Linked DNA regions of Homo sapiens: region 2 is linked to region 1. The links come from fine-mapping of genetic effects on gene expression. A gene starts in region 1. The other region holds a variant in brackets. All regions are shown on one strand. Distances are between the middles of the regions.

Evidence for each region. PIP is the estimated chance that this variant, and not a neighbour inherited with it, causes the effect. A credible set is the group of variants that fine-mapping cannot tell apart.
Region 2: its variant is the best candidate, but not a certain one, in a credible set for the expression of MLXIP in tibial nerve (GTEx, PIP 0.85).

The regions. Positions count from the first base shown.
Region 1 is chr12:122,076,523-122,080,906 of GRCh38, forward strand. MLXIP (MLX interacting protein) reads left to right here and starts at 2,234. Exons shown (of 17, transcript NM_014938.6): 1 at 2,234-2,744. The coding sequence starts at 2,332. RefSeq lists enhancers at 460-509, 2,577-2,816 and silencers at 1,777-2,056, 2,067-2,516.
Region 2 is chr12:122,113,995-122,118,378 of GRCh38, forward strand. The region is part of intron 1 of MLXIP (MLX interacting protein); the gene reads left to right. Among named protein-coding and RNA genes, the nearest start is that of MLXIP, 37 kb to the left of the region's middle. The variant C/A (reference allele first, on the strand shown) is at 2,025.

The DNA of each region.
Region 1 (4,384 bases):
TTCTAGCACCTTGGGAGGCTGAGGCAGGAGGATCACTTGAGGTCAGGAACTCGAGACGAGACCAGGCTGGGCAGCATGGCGAGACCCCATCTCTATAAAAAGTACAAAAATTAGCAGGGCACGGTGGTGTGCACCTGTGGTCCTGCTACTTGGGAAGTTGAGGTGGGAGGATCACCTGAGCCCTGGAGGTTGAGGGTGCTGTGAGCCATGATGGCACCACTCCACTCCAGTCCAGGTGAAAGAGCCAGATCCTGTCTCAAAAAAAAAAAAAAAAAAAAGTGGCTGGGCATGTAAACTTACCAAGGACCAAGGAGACAAGTCTTGAGAGAAAGGAAGGCAACTCAAAGGATGGACTTTTAAACACTTGTAACCAGCATTGGGAACAGTAGTAGGTTGAAGAGGGAAATCTAGAACTCATGCCTGAAAACTGCCAGTCATCCAGCCCATTTTTCCATACAGACATTTGGAAATAAGTTAATGGAGCCATTTTGGTGAGAGCCCTCTGTTCCCTTCAGGAGGCCTTTGTCAGGAAGAGGGTGGGGCAGGGGACTCACCCCCCACTCAAATCTGGAACTGAAACCAGCTTCAAAGCCGAGTGCAGAGCCAGCGCGGTGGCTCATGCCTGTCATCCCAGCACTTTGGGAGTCCAAGGCAGGCCTCACTTGAGGTCAGGAGTTCCAGACCGGCCTGGCCAACATGGTGATTGCACCACTGCGCTACAGCCTTGGGTGACAGAGCAAGACTCTGTCTCAAAAAACAAAACAACAATAAAACAAAGCAGAGTGCAGGAGTGGCTGTGGACTCTGGACGCCCTGCTAGGATTAGGATGGGTGTTCCTGGCTCATGGGCCTCACTGGCTCTTCTGATGCCCTGCCACCCCCACCCCAGACTGGCTTTGAGCCCCGGAAACCTTGACAGCTTTCTAGAGGTGTCTGTCAGTTAGGTTGTGCCACGCGAAGTTGCCGTTTCTGCAGGTCAAATAGTGGTGGACTATTGGCAATTTCTAGGCACCTCTGGTCTGGTTGATCCAAATCCTCCAACCTGTGGCACATTTATTTAGCGCTCATTTTGTGCCAGCCTGCCTGCTAAGCAACTTATAGCCATTTTTATTTGTATTTATTTTTCTTTTTGAGACAGGGCCTCGCTCTGTCGCCCAGGCTAGAGTGCAATGGCGCAATCTCGGCTCACTGCAACCTCCACCTCCCGGATTCAAGCGATTCTCCTGCCTCAGCCTCCCGAGTAGCTGGGATTACAGGGGTGCACCACTACGACCGGCTAATTTTTGTTATTTTTAGTAGAGACAGGGTTTCACCGTGTTGGCCTGGCTGGTCTTGAACTTCTGGCCTCAAGTGATCCACCCGCCTCGGCCTCCAAAAGTGCTAGGATTACAGGCATGAGCCACCGCGCCCCACTATAGCCATTTTTAAACTGTCCCAAGTTTCTGAGGAAACGGAATTGTTCACCATTTGACAGAGAAGAAAACTCTGGCTCAGATACTCCCCTTTTAGAATTGTTTCGGGGGCTGGCTCGTCCGTCAAACTTTAAAAAAATAACAACAGCATGCTGAGTTGAAGTTAAAAGAGCTGGGGTCTGGAGGTCGCTGGGCTCAGGGGCGCTGCCACTCAACAGCTGCGCCGAGCTGGGGACGCGCAGGGGAAGCAAGTTCCCAGCTCTGTGGACTCCAGGTCTGAGAAAAATCCTGTCGGTATTCAGCCACCCAGTGTTCCCATCAATACGATGAGAATAATGAGGACAATAGCCACCACGTCCGGCAAACTCAGGCGTGAGCTGCGAGGACTCGGTACCGCCCGGCAGGGAAAAAGCAGGGCCTGGAGGCCGAGGAGCCCCACCCGCACCCACCACGTGGAGCCGGCCGGGCCTGCGGCGAAGCCACAGGGCGACTCCCGGGGCGCGGAGCGGGGCGGGGGCGGGACTAGCACGGCCCCACTCTGCCGACGCCTCTCCCAGGTCGCGACACCGGCGAGCCGCTCCGCCCGGCCACCGTGTCCCTCAGCACCCACGGACGCCGGGAGAGGAGGAGGTGGCGAGGGGCACGGCCGGGAGGCGTGGCCTCCGCTTCCCCTTTTTTTTTTTTTTTGGTCCGCCTAGCTAAGGAAAGGTTCCCCTGCGCCTTTAAGAGGCCGACGCGGGCAGCCGATTGGCCCAGACGCCTCGGTGACGTCACGCCGGGGCCGGAGCCCTCCCCCTCCCGCCGCGCCGCGCGCTCGCGGACAGTCGGCGCGCGGGCCGGGCCGGGCCGGCGCCCCTCTGCCTCGCGCGCTTGTCGCGTTGCCCCGGGCTCCGGGGGATGCCCCCGGCCGAGCCCTTCTCATGGCCGCCGACGTCTTCATGTGCTCCCCGCGCCGGCCTCGCAGCCGGGGCCGCCAGGTGCTGCTCAAGCCCCAGGTGTCCGAGGACGACGACGACTCGGACACGGATGAGCCGTCCCCGCCGCCCGCCTCCGGCGCGGCCACCCCGGCCCGGGCCCACGCGAGCGCCGCGCCACCGCCGCCTCGGGCCGGGCCGGGCCGCGAGGAACCTCCGCGCCGCCAGCAGATCATCCACAGCGGCCACTTCATGGTGTCGTCGCCGCACCGAGAGCACCCGCCCAAGAAGGGCTACGATTTCGACACGGTCAACAAACAGACGTGCCAGACCTACAGCTTCGGCAAGACTAGCTCCTGCCACCTGTCCATCGACGCCTCGCTCACCAAGCTCTTCGAGTGCATGACTTTGGCCTACAGGTAGGGACCCCCGCGACCCCCTGAGGCCCCGGCCGGAGGCCCTTGTTTGACAAAACAAGCGTGGAGGGAAGGGCCGCCTGGCAACCCCGTGGCTTCATGCATTCCCTTTGGGTCTTCCTCCTTCGGGAGGGTTTATGGATCTGGGGTTCCCCGCGTTGCCAGAGGAGCCGGGGTCCTGGCCTCTTCCCCTGCCAGCAGTGCCGGGGTCCTTTCGGGTTCACGTTCCCCATCCAGGCCCTCCCCTCCAGTGTCCTGGGACCACCGATGTTGGACGAGGAAGAGGTATAAACACTGGCTGCATCTTGTGTTACCCGACTCTATCGACTCCTTCCTCCAAACGCTTTGTGTGTTTCCCCCATATCCAGCAGCGGTCAGGACCACCTGTTCGGGGTGACTGGAGGCTGGCTCTGCTGTTTAATGGTTGTGTAACACCTCGGAGCCTGTTTCCTCCTTTATAAAAGGGGAATGACTGTAGTGTCTGCCTCCAAGGGGCTGTTGTGGGGATGGAGTGAGATAGGTAAATTGCTTATTCCAGTGCTTGGCCAGAGTTAGGTGTCCCTGCACCTGGAGGCTGGCCCCCTTACAACCTCATCGGGAGGCCCGCCCCCATCTCGGGAGGGCTTTGGGTGCCTCCTAAGAAGACTTTTGGTGCCACAGCTGTTGGAGGTGCAGTCTGTCCTTCTGGCAAGTTGGAGGGTTTTCTGGCCGGTCCTGAAACATTATATGAGGGAGATGTCATTGTTGAGGGCAGACATCCCAGACACCGTTCTGACATGTGGATTCGGCTCTGGGCAGAGATTCCTCTTTTCCAAGTCACAGAAAATGCCTGGCCCTCAAAGATTAAAGCGCTTTTTCACTCTCTCTCCCTTTCCCACTATGAATATTAGGTATTTGCTGCAGGTAACTTTTTTGTCTGCGCAACAGAACTTCTTTGGACTGGCAGCAGCGGCCTTGAGCAGCTTGGCCCTGCAGAAAGCTCATGATGGGATCTCTGCTGAGTTAAGCTTATTGCATTAGGAACTGGACTAGCGGGGGCTGTCTTAGGTCTGCTCTGGAGGCATCGCGGGAGAAGTTTCCTAGGAGACTCCATAAACAGCGTAATAAAAGAGCAGGAATATCTTGCCCCCTCTCACCTCACCTTTTTAAGAGAGCTGTGAGCCCCAAGCATATCCAGGTTTAAATGTTATGCTTTTACCTGAAGTTAAAATATTAGATACTTAGCCCTGGATGGCACCCCCCTCACCGCCGCGGTCCCTGGAATAAACGATTAGTCAACTTGTTCTTTGTTATGTTCCTGAAACACCCCTATTTCCTCTCTTGAAGGTTTCCCTGATGATCTGTTCCCGTAGCTCCTCCTCCCATCCCCCTTACCCGGCACATTGGTCAGTCTCTGCTGATTCTCTGGTCTTGCCAGTTTGAGCTGGCACTGAGCCTGTAAAGATGTTCTGCTTTTTAAAAAACAAATGGTGTTGAGGCTGCAGCCCTGTGCGCCCTCCAGTCTCTGATTTTGAGCAGTTCCATTGGAATCAAACCCGACTGGATCGCAGCATATGCTATGCCTCGAGAGAGCCTTTTCAAACAAAGCTCGAGGTGAAAGACTGGAATGTATCTTATTAAGAAAACTTAATCCTCTTCTTTAT
Region 2 (4,384 bases), 37 kb after region 1:
TTTTTTTTGAGACAGCATTTCACTCTTGTTGCCCAGGCTAGAGTGTAATGGCACAATCTTGGCTCACCGCGCAACCTCTGCCTCCCAGGTTCAAGTGATTCTCCTGCCTCAGCCTCCTAAGTAGCTGGGATTACAGGCATGTGCTACCACACCCGGCTAATTTTTGTATTTTTAGTAGACAGGGTTTCATCATGTTGGCCAGACTGTTATCAAACTCCTGACCTCAGGTGATCCACCCACCTCAGCCTCCCAAAGTGCTGGGATTACAGGCGTGAGCCACTGCGCCTGGCTGACTGCCTTCATTTCTAATACCAAATGCAAGTTGGGGAGTTCCCAAAACCACCCTCAGTTTCAATAATTCACTAGAAAAACAGAACGCACTGAAAAGTATTATATTCATGGTTGCAGTATATTATAAGGAAAGGATTCAAATTAAAATCAGCCAAGACGCAAGTTTTTACTGGACTTGATCCATTCTACCCCTGTGGTTGACCTTTAGTTTCTAGCCCCGCCCAGATGTCTGGCTAAGACCTTTAGTTAGCCTTTCCTCTGGAGGTTGGAACTGATACCCTGTGCTCCAGGCCCCCATTGTAAGTCAGATTGGTAACTGTTCTGTGGCCAAAGCCCCCAGGCAAACAAAGACACTCCCATCAGGCAGAACTAATTTCTAATTCCAGGGGCCTAGAATTCACCTCCCAGCAGCCCAGGGCAAAGGCTTGACCTCTCTTTGGGAAGGTGACTTCTTTTTTTTTTTTTTTTTTGGTGGGGGGGGACAGGGTCTCACTCTGTTGCCCAGACTGGAGTGCGGTGGCACGATCTCGGCTCACCTCAACCCCCACCTCCCGGGTTCAAGCGATTCTCCTGCTTCAGCCTCCTGAGTAGCTGGGATTACAGGTATGCGCCACTACTGCCCGGTTAATTTTTTTATTTTTAGTAGAGATGGGGTTTCATCATGTTGGCCAGGCTGGTCTTGAACTCCTGACCTCAAATGATCCACCTGCCTCAGCCTCCCAAAGTGCTGGGATTACAATCGTGAGCCACCGCACCCAGCCAGGAAGACTACTTCTTTGCTACACAATATTATCACCAAAATGTAACAGGTTATTTCTAGGTGGCGGAATTGAAGGTGAGTTTGCTTTTGTTCTTTGCACTTTTCCTTTTTGTTTGAATTTTCTTTTATTATGGATAGATATATATTTTAATCAATAAAACTACAAAAGCTTAAAAGATAAAAGTGAAAACTAAATCTCTGAACGGGTGGGAGGGCAGGCAGGGAAGCAGTACAAGAAATTCTAAAGAAAAACCAGTAGTGGCTGGGCGCGGTGTCTCACGCCTATAATCCCAGCACTTTGGGAGGCCGAGGCAGGTGGATCACCTGAGGTCGGGAGTTCAAGACCACCCTGGCTAACATGGTGAAACCCCGTCTCTACTAAAAATACAAAAAATTAGCTGGGCATGGTAGCGGGCACCTGTCATCCCAACTACTCAGGAGGCTGAGGAGGAGAACTGCTTGAACCTGGGAGGCAGAGGTTGCAGTGAGTGAAGATCGCACCATTGCACTCCAGCCTGGGCAACAAGAGCGAAACTCCTTCTCAAAAAAAAAAAAAAAAAGACCAGTAGAGATGACTACACAAATATGTAACCTACATTCAAAAGACATGCCATAAAAACAAGTAAAAGACAATGAAAATCCTAGGGGAAACATTTGCAGAAACATCACAAAGCATTAGTACCACTAATATTATAATATTGCGAATATAAAATAGCAAGGGAAACAATGGCTGACACCTGGGCACAGCTGTAATCCCAGTACTTCGGGAGGCTGAGGTGGGCAGATCACCTGAGGTCAGGAGTTCAAGACCAGCCTGGCCAACATGGCAAAACCCTGTCTCTACAAAAACACAAAAATTAGCCAGGCATGATGGCAGTACCTGTAATCCCAGCTACTTGGGAGGCTGAGGCAGGAGAATCACTTGAACCCGGGAGGTGGAGGTTGCAGTGAGCCAAGATCATGCTGCTGCAAT[C/A]CAGCCTGGGTGACAGAGCGAGACTCCATCTGAAAACACACACACACACACACACACACACACACACACAACATTGACATTTCAATGACTGTAAATGACGTGTAGTCTGTTTACCAGTAATGTCCCAAAGCCAATTTCCCGGCTTTGACATTGTGCTCCAGCGATACAAGAGCCACCACTGGGGAAAGCTGGGTGAAGGGTACGTGGAGCTCTTTGTTCCATTTGTGTGACTTCCTGAGAGTCTATAATTACTTCAGAATAAGTTTTTTTTTAATTTTATTATTATTATACTTTAAGTTTTAGGGTACATGTGCACAACGTGCAGGTTTGTTACATATGTATACATGTGCCATGTTGGTTTTTAGAAAAGGCAAAGGGCATGGGCAAACAGCTCAGAAAATATGGGGCACATGGCTAACGCGCAGGTTTTTAATTATGAAATTTCATTAACAAATGATGCAAATTGAAGTGAAATACCAAGTTTGCCTCTTGCAAATCTGGTTTCATCTCCAGTCCGGAGGAGCACCTTGGGGTCTGATTGGGGTTTACTCTTCTGGCGAGGAAACCTAGGACTCTGGCTTTAAATGGTGCCCTGCCCAGGGGTCCCTGCCCCTGCCCCTGCCTGAAAGTCCACTTATGGCTTGAATCTGACAGGAAACTTAAGAACATGCCCAAGAAGCTCCTAAAACTCAGGAGCATGCCTCACCATGCCCAGCATTGACCACGTGCTGGGCCCAGGCCCTCATATCTGCTATGGCTGACCCAGCTGTCCAGTGTGGTGGATGTGGTCACTGTTTTGCAGAAGGTGGGCTGGGCCGGGCCAGCCTGGGTGACGAGGCCAGAAATGGAACCACTCTGCTTTCTTTGTTGGTTAGAAGTGGTCTAGACATGGTGGTGTCTGTCCTCTAGTGGAAGGCCTGGACACAGCCCATCCCAGGCAGGGTGAAGTCACCATTGCAGGCAGGCACATCTTGCCTGGTATCCACTCCCTCAAGTTGCCCTATTTTTGGGTGGTCATGGAAATGATTACTCCCTGCTTTTCACACAGAAAAGACAAACATACACCCTCACAAACAAGCTGGCACGCATGTGGGCGGAGCACCTGCAGGCACTCGAACACTCGCACACTGGAGTGTGCACCAGCCTTCCCGCCACAGCCCTCGGATCCTACTTCTCCAACAGGATGTTCTTTGAATGTAAGAAAAAAGATGCCAAGAGATCCACGAGGAGGATGGAGCAGGACCTGAAACCCCCTGGGGTTCCTCCATAGGAGACTCTCTGCTCGGGCAGGTGGCCCGACATGCACACTGCCCCTCCTGTCAAGCCATTGGCAGTGGCCCCTCCCGCGTGCCAGCTCCTCAATGAACCTTTGTTCGTCTGTAGCCTGTTAGCTTTGGCTGCTGGCAGCCTGTGGGACCAGGCCCACATCCCAGGACTAGCCGATAGAGACTGCCCTTTTGAAGCAAGTGAATTGGACTCCTGGAAGAGTCATTCCTCCACTCCCTCATTGAAACCACCTAATAACCGTGATCCTCATATCTGGATCTGGTGCACAGAATTGACTGATATATCTGTTTTTGTGATGAATTGCCTTCCGCAATTAACTAGAAGCCCTAGAATGTCTTGGACCTTGCCTGGTCTTTTTTCCTTGTTTATTTTGAAAAAGTAATACAGTAGTCCCCCCTTATCTGAGGGGGTGTGTTCTAAGACCCCAGTGGATGCCTGAAAGCTCAGATAGTGCCGAACCCTGTATACAGTACATTTTTTTCACATGTTAGCTCTATACTTGTGATAAAGCTTAATTTATAAGTTAGGCACAGTAAGAGATTAACAACAATAATAACATAGAGCAATTATGACAATCTACTATTCACAATTGCATGGATAGAAAATCTGTTTTTACCATAGATCTTAGCAACCTCAGCCTTGTTAAGTTGAGAACTTGCACCTTTTCACTTAATGAAAGCACTTTAAGGCTTCTCTAGGTCATATCTGAATTGCCAGCATCACTACTCTTATGCTTTGTGGCCATTATTAAGTAAAATAAGGGCTACCTGAACATAAGCACTGTGATACCACAACCATGGATCTGATCACTGAGATGGCTGCTAAGTGACTTAGCAGGTGGGTGGCAACTACAGTGTGGATCTGCTGGACAAAGGGATGAGTCATGTCCCAGGCGGGACAGAGCGGTACGGCGTGAGATTTTGCTATTCCAAATGGTGCACGGTTTAGGATTTATAGATTGTTTATTTCTGCAACTTTCCATGTAATATTTTCAGACAGCGGTTGATCATGGGTAAAGCACAATACCGCAGAAAAGGGAGGAATGCCGTACATTCCAGTGTTATATTTCAACA